Homo sapiens: one gene and its partners. The protein of the gene in region 1 interacts with the protein of each later gene in a pairwise test. Each region holds a gene or a part of one and is shown on either strand. Other genes may lie near its edges.

Region 1 (2,951 bases):
AGATACAGGGGACTGACTCTATTTTCTTAGTTATACTTAAGCATTTCTTTGGGTAGAGAGGTAGTGAGAGTGATGTGCTCAACTTTAAGTGTCTGCTTTTCCCAACTTTTATTTCCCAATCTTTTATTTCATCAGTGGTTTGTAGTTCTCAGCATATGAATTCCATTCATACTGTTAAGATGTAGTATGCCTTGGTTTTGGGGGTATGTTCAGCTTTACATTTGAGAACAATTGTAGGAGGTGGTAATTACTGATGTATTTGGACATATTATGGACCACATCTCCCCTCTTCCCAACCGATTATCTTGGTTCTCCATTTAGGCTGTGAAATCTGACAGCATGGTGGAACAGTATCTACAACAGATGAAGGGGCTCTGAATTCAACTGGGCTTCACAGGAATGATGGGTTGAGAAATGTCTGTTTCACAGTATGAATTACCTGAGCAAAATGCTCAGATTCCTATGCACACAGCTGCTACTAAGGACATACCACACACACATTTGGAGTTCCAGTGGGCTTTTATTGAGATAAATTAACAAAAACCAAGATTTTACCATATTTTTGGAACCTTATAAACTCAGCAGACTCCGGTCCATATATGCGTACATACAACATAACACATCCCAACAAAAACAGAGCCCCCCCCCCCCCCACTGGAACATCTGCCAATTAAGAGAAAGCCAATTTTCCCTTCCCCCAATGTTTCTGAAATTTTGAGTTCCCACTGTTCACTTCTCAGTGGAACTGGTCCCTTGTGGCTAGGGACATTGGAATTCTCTACCATTTTTACTGAACAAAAAATAATTTTTTTTCCTGTTTCAAAAAAGGGAATAGTGACTTTGTTTTCTCCAGGCTCCCCTTCCCACACAACCAATGTAAAATACAGCAGCCTGTATCTTAATAACCCAGCCCTACCCCCTCCCTTACCCAGCATTGTCTACTGGAGAATTTAAATACACTTCTGTTGGAATCTGTCAGCTGTGGATGGGCAGAGTCCAGGTGCCAGGCTAGCTCCCTCTGACCTCATGAACTGTGACAACCTTTGGACACTTAACTCTTTACCCCAAAGATGAGTTTTTAGATCAGAAAGGAGAGCAGATTTTCTTTGGGAGTTTTAAAAAACTATCTTTAGATTTAGAGATACAAAGTACAACTACAATCTCACAGAAGTCCACTAAAGTTCACCAAAAAGCTGACTTACTTCAGCTCTCATGAGGCCAATAATTTTGATAAAGGTATCTGGCAGGAAAATGATTCCACAATAACAAATTTAAAGATACCTAGAACATTGAAAAAAATAGCAAATTAAAATAAATGGCTTAATTTCCAAGAACTTATTTCATTTTTTTGTTACTCATCTAGAAGGTCAGGAGTGTGGCTAAAGGCAGTTTCTGATGAGGTTATGAGCTTCCAAAGTGTTTCTAAATCCTTAGTGCAGACACCCTCCCTTCTGGGGCAAAGTACCCTCCCTCCCACCCCTATTAAAAAAAAAAATTAAAAAATTAAACCACGTCATCAGAATGAGATGTTTTGATTCCAACAATTTATACTCAAGGCTTTGTGCTGAGTTGTCGTTTGAACCAAGCATGATGTTATCAAGCACAAAGCACGTGGCAAAGGAAAGATGCTCCCATCTCATTCTGAAAACAAATACTGATAACCAAGCCCACCCTCCAACCCTTTGGGGCCAACCCATTTTATGCTGCTGGGACCAACTTCAAACAATTTAGAGGTATATTTAGGTTTCCCTCTCTCTTACTTCTGTGAAAGATCATTTTAGAATAAATGTATTCCATTCCTATGGGAGAGGCAAAACAGTATTTATCCCCATCAGAATATATGGGGAAAGAAAAAACATAGGCCTAGAGGTGGTAAGGTGTGTAACAGTCCATAGCCCATTACACAACTGTACAACCAAAGGCTAAATGATGAGTTGGATGTAGTTTTAATATTAAAAATAGAGGGTAGTTCTCATCCAAATGAGCCACTGGAAAATATTATCATTACTTAAAAAAATACATATTTAATATTGGAAAGAATGTGAAAACAACTTCCAATAGTAACAATGCTTATTATGAGGGCCCAAAAAAGAAAGAAAAAAAAAAAAAAAAAAAAAAAGACCAGGCTTTGACCTAGTCCTCAGAGCATCTTTCCATTTAACAATTCCTATTCAAGAGTCAAGCACCAAAACTGGACAGCTGCCTCTACAAGACCGTGTCCAGTAGTGGTGTCCCAGATAGTTTAAGTGCCACTCCTCATTAGAGGCTATACTTCAGTAATACTTTCCATTTTAAGTCTGTGCTTTAAGAGGGACCCACAGGCATGTGGCACCACGCAGTCTAAAGTTGGTGAAGGAGACTGCACTTTTTGTTTAGTCACCCACACGTTCTCTAGCGAGATACAGAATTGCATTTATACTCTTTTCTTCTACATGAATGATCCCTCTTATCTCGCAAGAGGTGGGGGAGAAAGAGAGCTGCATCGGTACAAGGGCACAATTTTTTTGGTCAAAAGTTGACACCTTTTAAATTCCCTCTCCCACCCCTCCCTGGAAAAAAGTTACTTCCTTAATTAGGTTTTCTATTTAGTAACCAACATTGACTGGACAGAAAATATGAGGCTTGGGTTCCAAATAGATGAGCTTGTTCTTTTTTGGGTTTGTACCGTGCAGTTCTTGCTACAGTTGTTAAGGAGTTAGGGCTATGTCCCATCAGGAGGCATCTGTAGGATTTTGATCTCCAAGGAATTGTGGGTGAGTCGCAAATAGTTTGCTCAGAAGTAGGCAGAGTCAAAAAAGCAACTTCAAGTAATTGATTCCTTTGTCCAAAAGAGTTAAAACATTAAAGTATATGCGGGACTTATTTTGTAATATTTTAGGGTTTTGAAAAATAAAATATGGAAATCAATTTTTTTTAATTTTGTTTTTTGCTTTTTTCCCCCCCTTTCCAGA
Region 2 (3,500 bases), on another chromosome or scaffold:
CTCGGCCTCCGAGAGTGCTGGGATTACAGGCGTGAGTCACGCACCCGGCCTGAAGATTCTTAAGGGAGTGATCAGTTCTACCTGCAAAGGTTGGAAGAAGCTTGTACAACTGATTCTTGAATTTTAATTGCATTTAATTAATAGGTGTTGACCAGGATGGGGAGGGCATTTAGGCAGTGCAATTAGAAACAGCCTAAGGAGGAGCCAGGCGCAGTGAGTGGTTCATGCCTGTAATCCCAGCACTTTGGGAGGCCGAGGTGGGTGGATCACTTGAGGTCAGGACTTCGAGACCAGCCTGGCCAACATGGTGAAACCCCGTCTCTACTGAAAATACAAAAATAAGCCAGGCGTGGTGGCAGGTGCCTGTAATCCCAGCTACTTGGGAGGCTGAGGCAGGAGAATCACTTGAACCTAGCAGGCACCCCACTGCACTCCAACTGGGGCGACAAGCAAGACTGTGCCTCAAAACGCGCGCGCGCGCGCACACACACACACACACACACACACACACACACACACAGCCTGAGGAAAGTGAAGAATGGTATCTTAGAGAAGGGAGAGTTTGGTTGCTGTGCAGGATGAAAAATCAAGTTTGAATAGATAGACTGGAGGTCATGGAGGATCTCTTGTCATGCTGAAAACATTAAATTTTATTGTCTTAACAAATGGGCAACAATAGCAGTTTTAAGCAGGGGAGAATCATTATCAAATGTGTATGTGTTTCAATCTAGAGGCACCTGCGTAGTGTGTATGTGGGTTTAGAGTTTGAGGAGAGAACTGGTTGGCAGGATGTTATAATAACCTGAATAGGCCGGGCGCGGTGGCTCAGGCCTGTAATCCCAGCACTTCGGGAGGCCGAGGGGGATGGATCATCTGAGGTCGGGAGTTCGAGACCAACCTGACCAACATGGAGAAACCCCGTCTCTAATTTAAAAACAAAACAAAAAAAAAAAACCGAGCCGGGCGTGGTGGCGCATGCCTGTAATCCCAGCTACTCGGGAGGCTGAGGCAGGAGAATCGCTTCAACGCAGAAGGCAGAGGTTGTGGTGAGCCGAGATCGCGCCCTTGTGCTTGGACAACAAGAGCGAAACTTCGTCTCAAAAATAAAAAATAAAAAATAACCTGAATAACCATCGTCTGTCTGCTCCCTAACACTCACAGGATTAGAATTTCTGGGGATAGTACTTAAGCTACCAAAGAGGATGCCATCACTCAGAGATATAGAGGTGATCAGAAAACTGCAAAAGAGACCTTCTTGTCTTTTTCTCTACCAACTGTTATGATTTGTCATTGCCACTAGCATGTATTTGGCAAAACTTGCTATGGCCTTGTTTGTCTTCCTTCTATAAAATGAATTTGTTCTAAAATTTGGAAATAGAAATTACTGTTTTTGTTCTTTCAGTATATTCCAGTGGGTTGCTGCAGAGTAATATTTTTATGTTTTCAATGCTTTTAGTTTACACTTAAATGTTTGTGTTGGAAATGTCTTTTCTGCTAATTCAGTTATTGGAAAAGGGCTGTAATTGAGTAGGGTAGTAAATACTAATTGCTTGTTTCTTTAACTGAATAACATTTTCCTATTGTTAACGGATTGACTACAGGTGTGCTGTTTGACTTTCTATTACTTGTAACTGAAGTTAGCCTCTCTTCCTCTACCCCCGCAAAAGTGTAGGAGACTGGGTGATGGTCTTGTATTCTCTACAAGTTGGTGGCGTTGTTTAGGCCCCAAGCTGGAATGCTGATGACCCTATGATTCTCTCCCTCCACCCTTTACATCTGTTTTATCATGCAAGTTCTGATGATTTTTAGACTATTTTTCTAGGCTCTGCTTCACACCTCATTGACACCTATCTTCCCTAATTAAGGTCTTTTTTTTCTGGCATGTATGTTGCCCTATTAACAGTAGCTTTCCAGAGGGTACATGGCTCACACCTGTAAACTTAGCACTCTGGGAGGCCAAAGCAGGAGGATTGCTTGAGCCCAGGAGTTTGAGACAAGCCTGGGCAACACAGGGAGACTCTTATCTCTACAAAAATTTAAAAAAATAAAATAACTGGGCGTGGTGGCACACATCTTATAGTCCCAGCTACTTGGGAGACTGAGACAGGAGGATCCCTTGAACCCAGGAGGTTGAGGGTACAATAAGCCATGATCTAACCACTGCACTCCAGCCTGGGTGACAGAGTGACACTGTCTCAAAAAAAAAAAAAAAAAAAGGAAAAATAGCTTTCCAACTGATCACAGTATCTGCAGTCTTCATTCCCTGATAATAAATCTCCACCTTGCTGCCATAGGCATCTCTCCTCTTTGCTATTTCGATTATATCACTGCTTCTGAAAACTCTGTAAGGTGCCTATAGCAATGGTTCTAATATTTGGGAGGGAGAAGGGGATTCAAATCTCTCTCTCTCTTTTTTTTTTTTTTTAAGGAGATAGGGTTTCTCTATGTTGACTGGGCTGGTCTTGAACTCCTGGCTACCAGCCATCCTGTCGCCTTCCAAAGTGCTGAGATTACATGGCGCTCTTGTCAAAATGGATGGACATTTACCTCTGAAATGTGCCCAAGTGCATATTTGCATTCCGTAGGGCTTTTTAGAAAATCACATTGAAGTTCTTTTACAAATCTTAACTTTTGAGGATGCTATAGACCATCTTATGTTTTTTTAAAATGCTGGGTTTTTGTTTTGTTGTTTTTTTTTTTTTTAAATGCCGTCGCATTTACTTGAAGTGCTCATCCACCCATCCCACTCTTGGATCCTTTAAAGCTCTGCTCAGGTCTTGTTTCTTCGAAAAAGCATCCCCACACTTTAAAAACAAAAAACTGGATTAGATACACATGCTTTCTGCTCTTATAACACCTTAAGAGTCTTACCCACTAACAGTAACTTCAAATTAGCAACTGAATCATTTTGCTTCCTAGTGTAGACCCTGGCCAAAGTAGGTATTCATTTAATGTTTATTAAATAAATATGTAAAGTTAGGACTTTTCAAGCATTTTCCTTTGAGTAAAATATTTACTATTTTGTAGCCTATGTTCTGGAAATATTGAACATCTAGATAATAGGTTATAAGGATTTTAACTAACTGGACACTTACCTATATTTTCTAAATTTTGGAAGACTTGATATTGAGGTCTCATCCAGACTAAAGTTTTACTAAATGGCATCTTTACAAATAAAAAAATTCAAGATTTCATATTTAGCTCTGAATGTCTGTTTCTTTAAAATCTCCTTGTTTAGCCAGTTTAGACTAATGTCTGAGCTAATTGTGTTTTCCTTTTTGGGAGAGAGGTTAGAAAAGGTCACTACATTTGAAAAGACCAGTTGTGGAAATAGTAATTTTTTTTAACTTATCAGTGATATCTGATGTTATCAGTATACTAAAAGTGGACATAGAACGTTAAAGAAGGAACCAAAGAGGCAAAGATACCTGGAGTTATTAGGGACCTATTTTGAGATTTTGTCTCTGGCACTAAGAATTTATTAATTTATTGAGTTTAGC
Region 3 (3,500 bases), on another chromosome or scaffold:
CACCCACCCTTCTCAGAAGAGAGCTCTAAGTTGTTCAACATCATTACTGTTGTCCTATCATAGAAAAGGCATTCACCACTCTGTTTTGATGCCACACTCCTGGGAAATGAGAGTTACTGATATAGAAGTAATTATCAATATGTGTGTTTTCAGGGAGCATCAATTTTGTGGAAATGTTCTAGTTTACTTTTGCTTCTAAGATTTGGAGAATCTGGATCCTGGCCTCATGTTTTCAGATATGGTCCGAAATTGACATGTTGAGATGTCAATCAATTACAAATTGAGTAGAATTGATAGATTATGCATTAATGGCCACGGTTTAAAATATGGGGGTTCTACTCTGGAAGACTGAAAGCTCAGTCCCTGCCCCTGTGACTTGGTATCTCTCCTGAAAATGAGCTGTCCTCTGTGAATCTCCTGGTGGCCATGTCTAGCTCCGTCACACTGGCTAGTCAGTCCTTTCAATCCTTAGAATCAGGTCACAGTTTCACTTCAGAGATCTCTTCCATTACAACCAGGCTGGGTAGGGTTGAAGGGTAGCTTTTTGTTTTCGTTTTTGTTTTTTTTGGTAGAGACGGGGCTTCATTATTTTCTCTAGGCTGATCTTGAACTCTCGAGCTCAAGTGATCTACCTGCCTCAGACTCCCAAAGTGTTGGGATTATTACAGGTGTGTGCCCACACGCTGGGCCTAAGGGTACCTTTTTATGTCTGCCCAGGGCTTGGCACAGTCTCACTGGCCTTCACCAAATATTTCCCTGCCTTGACTCCAAGATTTCCTTGCTGTTCTTTACCAACCAGAAAAATCATTGTTGTCATTGTTAGATTGTAGAAGGTAAGATTGAAGTTCTCACATGAGATATTAAAAACCATGTCCTTTGAGACCAGTATCATAGTTCAAACTCAGCCATGTGGATTTGAAGTTAAGATTAACTCGTATATATGAATGCATATATGTATAAATAGTACTAAAATAAACGGTATAAGGTTGTGTATTTTCTATGGGAAAGCAGTGTCCTAAGTTGTTTACATGTGTTACCTTACTTAATTCTCACAGCCACCCTATGTTGGTGCTATCCTTGTCCCTATTTATTCTCATTTTATAGATGGGGCACAGAGACATTGTGTGACTTGCTCAACAATAAACAGCTAATAAGGGCTGTGCGTGGTGGTTCACACCTGTAATCCCAGCACTTTGGGAGGCTGAGGTGGGCGGATCACCTGTGGTCAGGAGTTTGAGACCAGCCTGGCCAACATGGCAAAACGCCATCTCTACTAAACATACAAAAATTAGCTGGGTGTGGTGGCACGCACCTGTAATCCCAGCTACTTGGGAGGCTGAGGTAGGAGAATCACTTGAACCCAGGAGGCACAGGTTGCAGTGAGCCAAGATGGCGCCACTGTGCTCCAGCCTGGGAGACAGAGGCAGACTCCATCTTAAAAAAAAAAAAAAAAAAAATGGGCAGCTAGTAAGTCTAGCCAGGATCACATCCAGAGTTCCAAGCAATACTCCTAGTCAATAGTAGCACTGCTACTGATTGCTTTTTCTTTTCTTTTCTTTCTTGTTTTTTTTTTTTTTTTTTTTTTTTTGAGACAGAGTCTCACTCTGTTACCCAGGCTGGAGTGCAGTGGTACACTCTTCGCTCACTGCAACTTCTGCCTCCTGGGCTCAAGCAATCCTCCCATCTCATCATCCCAAGTAGCTGGGACTACAGGCGTGTGCCACCACGCCTGGCTAATTTTTATATTTTTTTCGTAGGGACTGGGTATCGCCATGTTGCCCAGGCTGGTCTCGAAGTCCTGAGCTCAAGCAATCCATTGTCCACCTTGGCCTCCCAAAGTGCTGGGGTAACAGGCAAGAACCGCCGTGCCCAGCCTTGCTAGTAATTTTCATGAACTAACTCATCTAATTCTCACTGCAGCTCTATGCAAGAGATATTATCAGTATCACTCCTTTACAGAAGAGGAAAGGGAGGCCACAGATGTTTAAGTGATTTGCTCAGAGCTAGAGTCATAACCCTGGCACCTGGCTCCTAAGCCTCTGCTTCTTGCCACTATACATCGTCATTCAAATCCCTCAGCTCATTCTAAGGTTTCAAAGAAGAATGTAAGTTAAATATTGCCAATATCTGTAAACACATGAATGACCTCAGTCCCTGTTCAGACACGGGGTTGGTGTTGGTTTGGGGGAGGGGAAATAAACACCAAGAATCATCTCTGAATTGATCTCCACTCTTTGCATTGCTGTGTTACTCCTGTTTCAGACCTCACCTCCACCCGCGACAACCCAGTCCCCTGAAAGCACTATGGATACCTCACTGAAGAAGGAGAAGTCAGCCATCCTGGATCTTTATATTCCTCCTCCGCCTGCTGTTCCCTACTCTCCCCGGTATGTTGCTGTCCATTGTCATGGTATGCTTGTCTCCTGTTGGTGTCATTTGTAAATGGTGGTGTGAAAAGAGGATCTTGAGAGAGGAAGTTGCTGAGCCACAGTGTGACAGGGCTGAATCTTGAACTGCCGTTAAAAGTATGATCAGCCTTATTTTATAGGAGTGTAGGGACATATCTGGGTTCTGTGGGGCTTGAAGCTATACAGTTTGGTGGGGAGGGCCCTTCTGAGAAAAGAATATGGCAGTATTGGCCAGGTGTGGTCGCTCACACCTGTAATCCCAGCACTTTGGGTGGCTGAGGCGGGCAGATCACTTGAGCTCAGGAGTTCAAGACCAGCCTGGGCAACATGGTAAAACCTCATCTCTATAAAAAAATACAAAAATTAGCTGAGTTTGGTGGCAGATGCCTGTAGTCCCAGCTACTCAGGAGGTTGAGGCAGGAAAATCGCTTGAGCCTAGGAGGTGGAGGTTGCAGTGAGCAGAGTTTGTGCCATTGCAATCCAGCCTGGGTGACAGAGCGAGACCCTGTCTCAAAAAAGAAACAAAAGGATATAGCAATACCTTACTTTTGAAAAACGAATGAAAACGTGCTCTCCTGGGGCCTTGGAAGGGTCTATTGGGGGCCCTGCAGGTTAAGTTTCATTAACTCCATGGTAAATTCATCTTGAGGGGGTAGATAATAAGTATTTCTGTGAGATTAATGAGAGTTGCAGCTTGATTTTGCTGAGAAAGATGTGTTCTTCATAGAACTTGAAAAAAAACCTATGTGGCCAGGTATGGTGTCTCACGCCAATATTTCCAGCACTTTGGAAGGCCAGTTCAGAGGATTGCTTGAGCCCAGAAGTTCAAGACCAGCCTGGGGAATATAGTGAGGCCCCATCTCTACAAAAAATTTAAAAAATTAGCTGGGTGTGGTTGTGTGCACCCGTGGTCCTAGCTACTCAGGAGGCTGAGGTGGTAGGATCACTGGAGCCCAGGAGGTCGAGGCTGCAGTACAATACACCATGATCATACCACTGCACTCCAGCCTGGACAACAGAGTGAGACCTAGTCTCAAAAACAAAAAAACAAAAAACAGAAAAACTCAGACCTTGTGAGTGTAGGTATGAACA
Region 4 (4,034 bases), on another chromosome or scaffold:
TACAAAAATGGCACCTTTTTCACATAATTATTACCGTAAAAAACATAACATTTCCTTTTGAGGTGACAACAAAGTTCTGGAGCTAGATAGTGGTGATGGTTGTACAACATTGATAATGTACTGGGTTGTATACTTTAAAATGGTTAAAATGTTAAATTTTATGTTATGTGTATTTTGCCACGATAATTTAAAAAATGACCACACAATACCTTCAGTCAGGAGAATTGGAAGACAGGGCTATATGTTGGTTTGGAGAGGAAATTCAGACGTACGAGAAATATCCAATGTTTTATTATTTTTAGACATAACATTTATTTGTCTGAGAATGTTCTAAATTTTCAAAGGTAAAATTACAATTCATGTAAATGTAAAAAGAATATGTGAAAGATTTTTCAACACAATCAACAACTGCTAGGATTAAGAAAACAGTTGAAGGGTATATGTGTATATACAATATACACAATATGAAGATATAAACAAAACATTGAATTTCATAAACACATAGGAAATTAATAAATGTTAGAATAACACTGCCAGGTTAAATATAAAACGGGTTAATATCTTACAGGGCAATAAATTGTAACATTTAAGGTTTTCTATTGCACTGGACATAAATCATTTACATATTTATTGAATAAAATATCTACATGTTAACATCAGTGTCTACAGAGTTGAAAAATAGGTAAATCAATAGACATCCTGCACTGCCCTGAAATGACATCCAGTAACTGAAGGTGACTTTATCTAAGTTTGGTATAATTTTTCTGACAGTGCAACATGCTTTTTTTCCCCACCTGATCCTAGTTTGGTAAGGTAATATGGAAGTGGCAGTTTTGCCTCCCATCGCAAGCCATAAGTTTTAACAGGGATTATCCTGGTGGTGCAAATTGGAGTTTGAATGTTTGTTTTGCTTACCAGCATTTTTCAAGACAGATCTGTGTGTGTTTTAGTATGTCGCTTGAGTCGTATACAAAATATTAAAAATCACTTCATTTCCCAAATCCTCATCGAATGTTCCTCGCCAGCCGAGTGGTCCTCCAGAGCAAAGGCCAGCCTTCCTTCCAGCTGTCTGGCCAAGGAGCTTCAGGATCTTCTAGCAAGCACCCCAGAGGCAGAAGACTGTCATCCATGGTACAGGACTGCGGCGAACAAGCTGACTGCGCAGTCACGTGGGGCTGACGGTGGGTCATGTGACCAGGCTCTGCATTAGGCCTGCCGAGAGGAGTGTTTTCTTGCATCCAGAAAAGACCTGAGAGGCGGACGACACCTGTGCTCCGCAGAGCAGAACGTGGGAGGAACGGCGGGATGTTAAGGTAGGTAGGTGTCTTTCCATGCTGCATCAGCCTGAAAACTAATTTCTCAGGCGACTGGAACTACAGCATTTGTTGGTAAAGGAAACAATCCGTCAGCCAACCGGGAGCGTCTTAGCCCGTCTGTCTTTTGTCCAGGAGCTCAAGAAGCAGAGAGTCTACCTGCCCGACGCGTTCGTGGAGAGGAGCAGCGGTTGCTGTTGGAGGAGGTGGGTGCAAGGACGGCAGATGGCATCCCTGAGAGGTGGTGACTGAGACTAGATGCGGGTGCAGGTAATGCCTCAGATCCGCCTGCTCCCTCCTGCCTTTTGAACACCCTTGACCCCTCATCCCAAGGCTCCCAGCCCAGTGCCCTGTGTTTGTATGTGTGGGTGGGGGAGGTGGGCATATGGATGGAGTTGGCTTCAGGGGAGCCCAGAGCGGGGAAATGGTGAAGTGACAATTCGTGAACACCTGTGGTGCTGGATCAGGAAAGGCAGGGGTGGGGATGGGAACCGTGAGCTATGCGTCCGCACTCATTCTACTCTCTGTCTTCTTACTGGCAGTATTCAGGCAGTGGGGATGGCTGATACCAGCTCAAAACTGGCGGAGGGTGGAGGAGGGCAGAAGAGAACACATACATCTGCCTTTTGCTCCAAGGCTCCAGCTGGCTGGGGATGCAAGAGAGGAATGAACCTCAATCCCGGCAGTTCTAGGAAAAGGAGGAGGAGACATAGACTCGAGGGGAGGAAACCTAGATGCTGTGGGCCCTTCACCTAGGATTTCTCATTAGGATACTCCAAGCTTCTCGACCCCCAAGGGGATTCCTGGATCTCAGCCCCATGCAGCAGGATCTCATTCCCATTGAGGGACACAAAGTGGGTTGCTACTCCGTGTGAGCTCTCTCTCCCTGCTGTCTTGGGCCTCAGAGGAGGGTCTTTCTGGGGACCACCTACAGAAACTGCTTCATGGATAGTCTCCTAAGTTTCCCTCTGCATACCCTTTGCTCTCTTGTGTTGTGATCTCTGCTCATTCCTTAGGATGTGTTTCTTTGGTCCCATCCTAGGTAGCAGCCCCATGGTAAGTCCTTGTCCTCTTTCACATCGAGTATCCTCCTTTCCCCCTACCCCATGCACCCACTGGGTACCAAGTGAAAGAAAATGGTTCCTCTACCCACAATACTTCTGGCACAGAATGTGTGGATTTTTCACACCAAGCAATTCTCTTATTCTTTGAGGACATCAGCTAGGTATTCTACAATTTAATTCAATTCTGATACTACCCAGAGTTAGTGCAGACCTCTCTGGTTAAGGGCTCATTCCCATAAGACTGCCCTCCCTCACTTCAGACAACAGTCACAAGTAATGGATCTCCATGTCACCCACACTTCTGTCTGACTTAGCTACTAGTTGGAAGTTCCCACAACCCCCTCCTCAGGTTCAATAATTTGCTATAAGGGCCCACAGAACTCAGGGAAACACTACTTCCTATTACTGGTTCATTATAAAGGATATAAATCAAAAGCCAGATGAAGAGGTACATATGGCAAGGTCCAGAAGGGTCCCAAATGCAGAAGCTGCCATCCATGTGGATTTGGGGTACACCACCTTCCCAGAATATGAATGAGTTCACCAACCTGGAACCTCTCAGACATTTGGGATTTTTATAGAGGTTTCATTACATAGGCGTGATTGATGAAATCATTGACCATTGGTGATTAGCTCAATCTTCAGCCCCTCTCTTCTCCTTGGAGGTCAAGGGGTGAGGCTGAAAGTTCCAACCCTCTAATCATGCCTTGGTCTTTCTGGTGACCATCCATATCTTGAAGCTATCTAGTGCACCCACCAGTCATCTCGGAACATAAAAAAAGACACCTATCACTCCAGAGATTCCAAGGGTCTTAGTGTCAAGAACTTGAGACTAAAGCCACATGTAACAAAAGATGCTTCCGTTATCCCTATCAGGAAATAGCAAGGGTTCTAGGAGCTCTATGCCAGGAATATGGGACAAAGAATTATGGTTACCAAAGGCTGGAAAGGGTATTGGGGATGGGGTATAAAAAGGAGTTGGTTAATGGGTACAACAATACAGTTAGAAGGAATATGATCTAGTGTTCAGTAGCACAATAGGGTGCCTATAGTTAACAATAGTTATTATATATTTCAGTATAATTAGAAGAATAGATTTGGAATGTCCTCAGTGCAACAAAATGATAAATATTTAAGGTGATGTATATCTCAATTACATTACACATTCTATGCTTATATCAAAATATAATTTATACCCCATAAATATGTACAAATATTGCATATCCATGTGAATTAAAAATTTTAAAAAATTTTAAAAATAACTCATTTCAAATTTCAATCAAAATAAAAAAGATCAAATGCTGATTTCTTCATATATCACAATACATACAAAGTCAGTGTAAGAAAGTGTTGCTAGGAAGAAATGACTTTTTCTAATCCCACTCCTATCCTTATGTTTATACCAAGTTTATAGAGTTGAAACTATGTTGTTCTACTACTTTAAGCCCTCCTATTTAGACTTAAAAGCTAGGATAGATACAAGGTATGTGGGGCAAAATCATAGGTAGAGATTAGTCCCTAGGACTGCATCCTCGTCTCCTACCCTCTCCTATTATTTTCTTCTCTTTACTCTCCAGAATTCTGATAATATAAGTACTGGGGCCAGCATTCAGCTTATGGTTTTCTACTCAAGCTGTCTTGTCTCTTGTCTCTGTGT

What was found.
Region 2: the proteins of DDX6 (region 1) and ZBTB10 interact in binary tests that used the Homo sapiens proteins (3 or more experiments, as listed by UniProt).
Region 3: the proteins of DDX6 (region 1) and CNKSR3 interact in binary tests that used the Homo sapiens proteins (3 or more experiments, as listed by UniProt).
Region 4: the proteins of DDX6 (region 1) and GPRASP3 interact in binary tests that used the Homo sapiens proteins (3 or more experiments, as listed by UniProt).

Annotation. Positions count from the first base shown.
Region 1 is NC_000011.10:118,747,263-118,750,213, forward strand, and holds the end of DDX6 (probable ATP-dependent RNA helicase DDX6), read right to left. Parts: 3' UTR 501-2,951; downstream 1-500.
Region 2 is NC_000008.11:80,492,726-80,496,225, forward strand, and holds part of ZBTB10 (zinc finger and BTB domain-containing protein 10), read left to right. Parts: intron 1-3,500. UniProt on the Homo sapiens protein: May be involved in transcriptional regulation.
Region 3 is NC_000006.12:154,413,186-154,416,685, reverse strand, and holds part of CNKSR3 (connector enhancer of kinase suppressor of ras 3), read left to right. Parts: intron 1-2,262; coding exon 2,263-2,387; intron 2,388-3,500. UniProt on the Homo sapiens protein: Involved in transepithelial sodium transport. Regulates aldosterone-induced and epithelial sodium channel (ENaC)-mediated sodium transport through regulation of ENaC cell surface expression.
Region 4 is NC_000023.11:102,719,509-102,723,542, forward strand, and holds the start of GPRASP3 (G protein-coupled receptor associated sorting protein 3), read left to right. Parts: upstream 1-1,234; 5' UTR 1,235-1,317; intron 1,318-1,448; 5' UTR 1,449-1,583; intron 1,584-1,855; exon of another isoform or gene 1,856-4,034. UniProt on the Homo sapiens protein: Survival and differentiation promoting protein that plays a role in the regulation of neurosynaptogenesis. Induces phosphatase PP2A activity which results in APP dephosphorylation and inhibits BACE1-mediated processing of APP.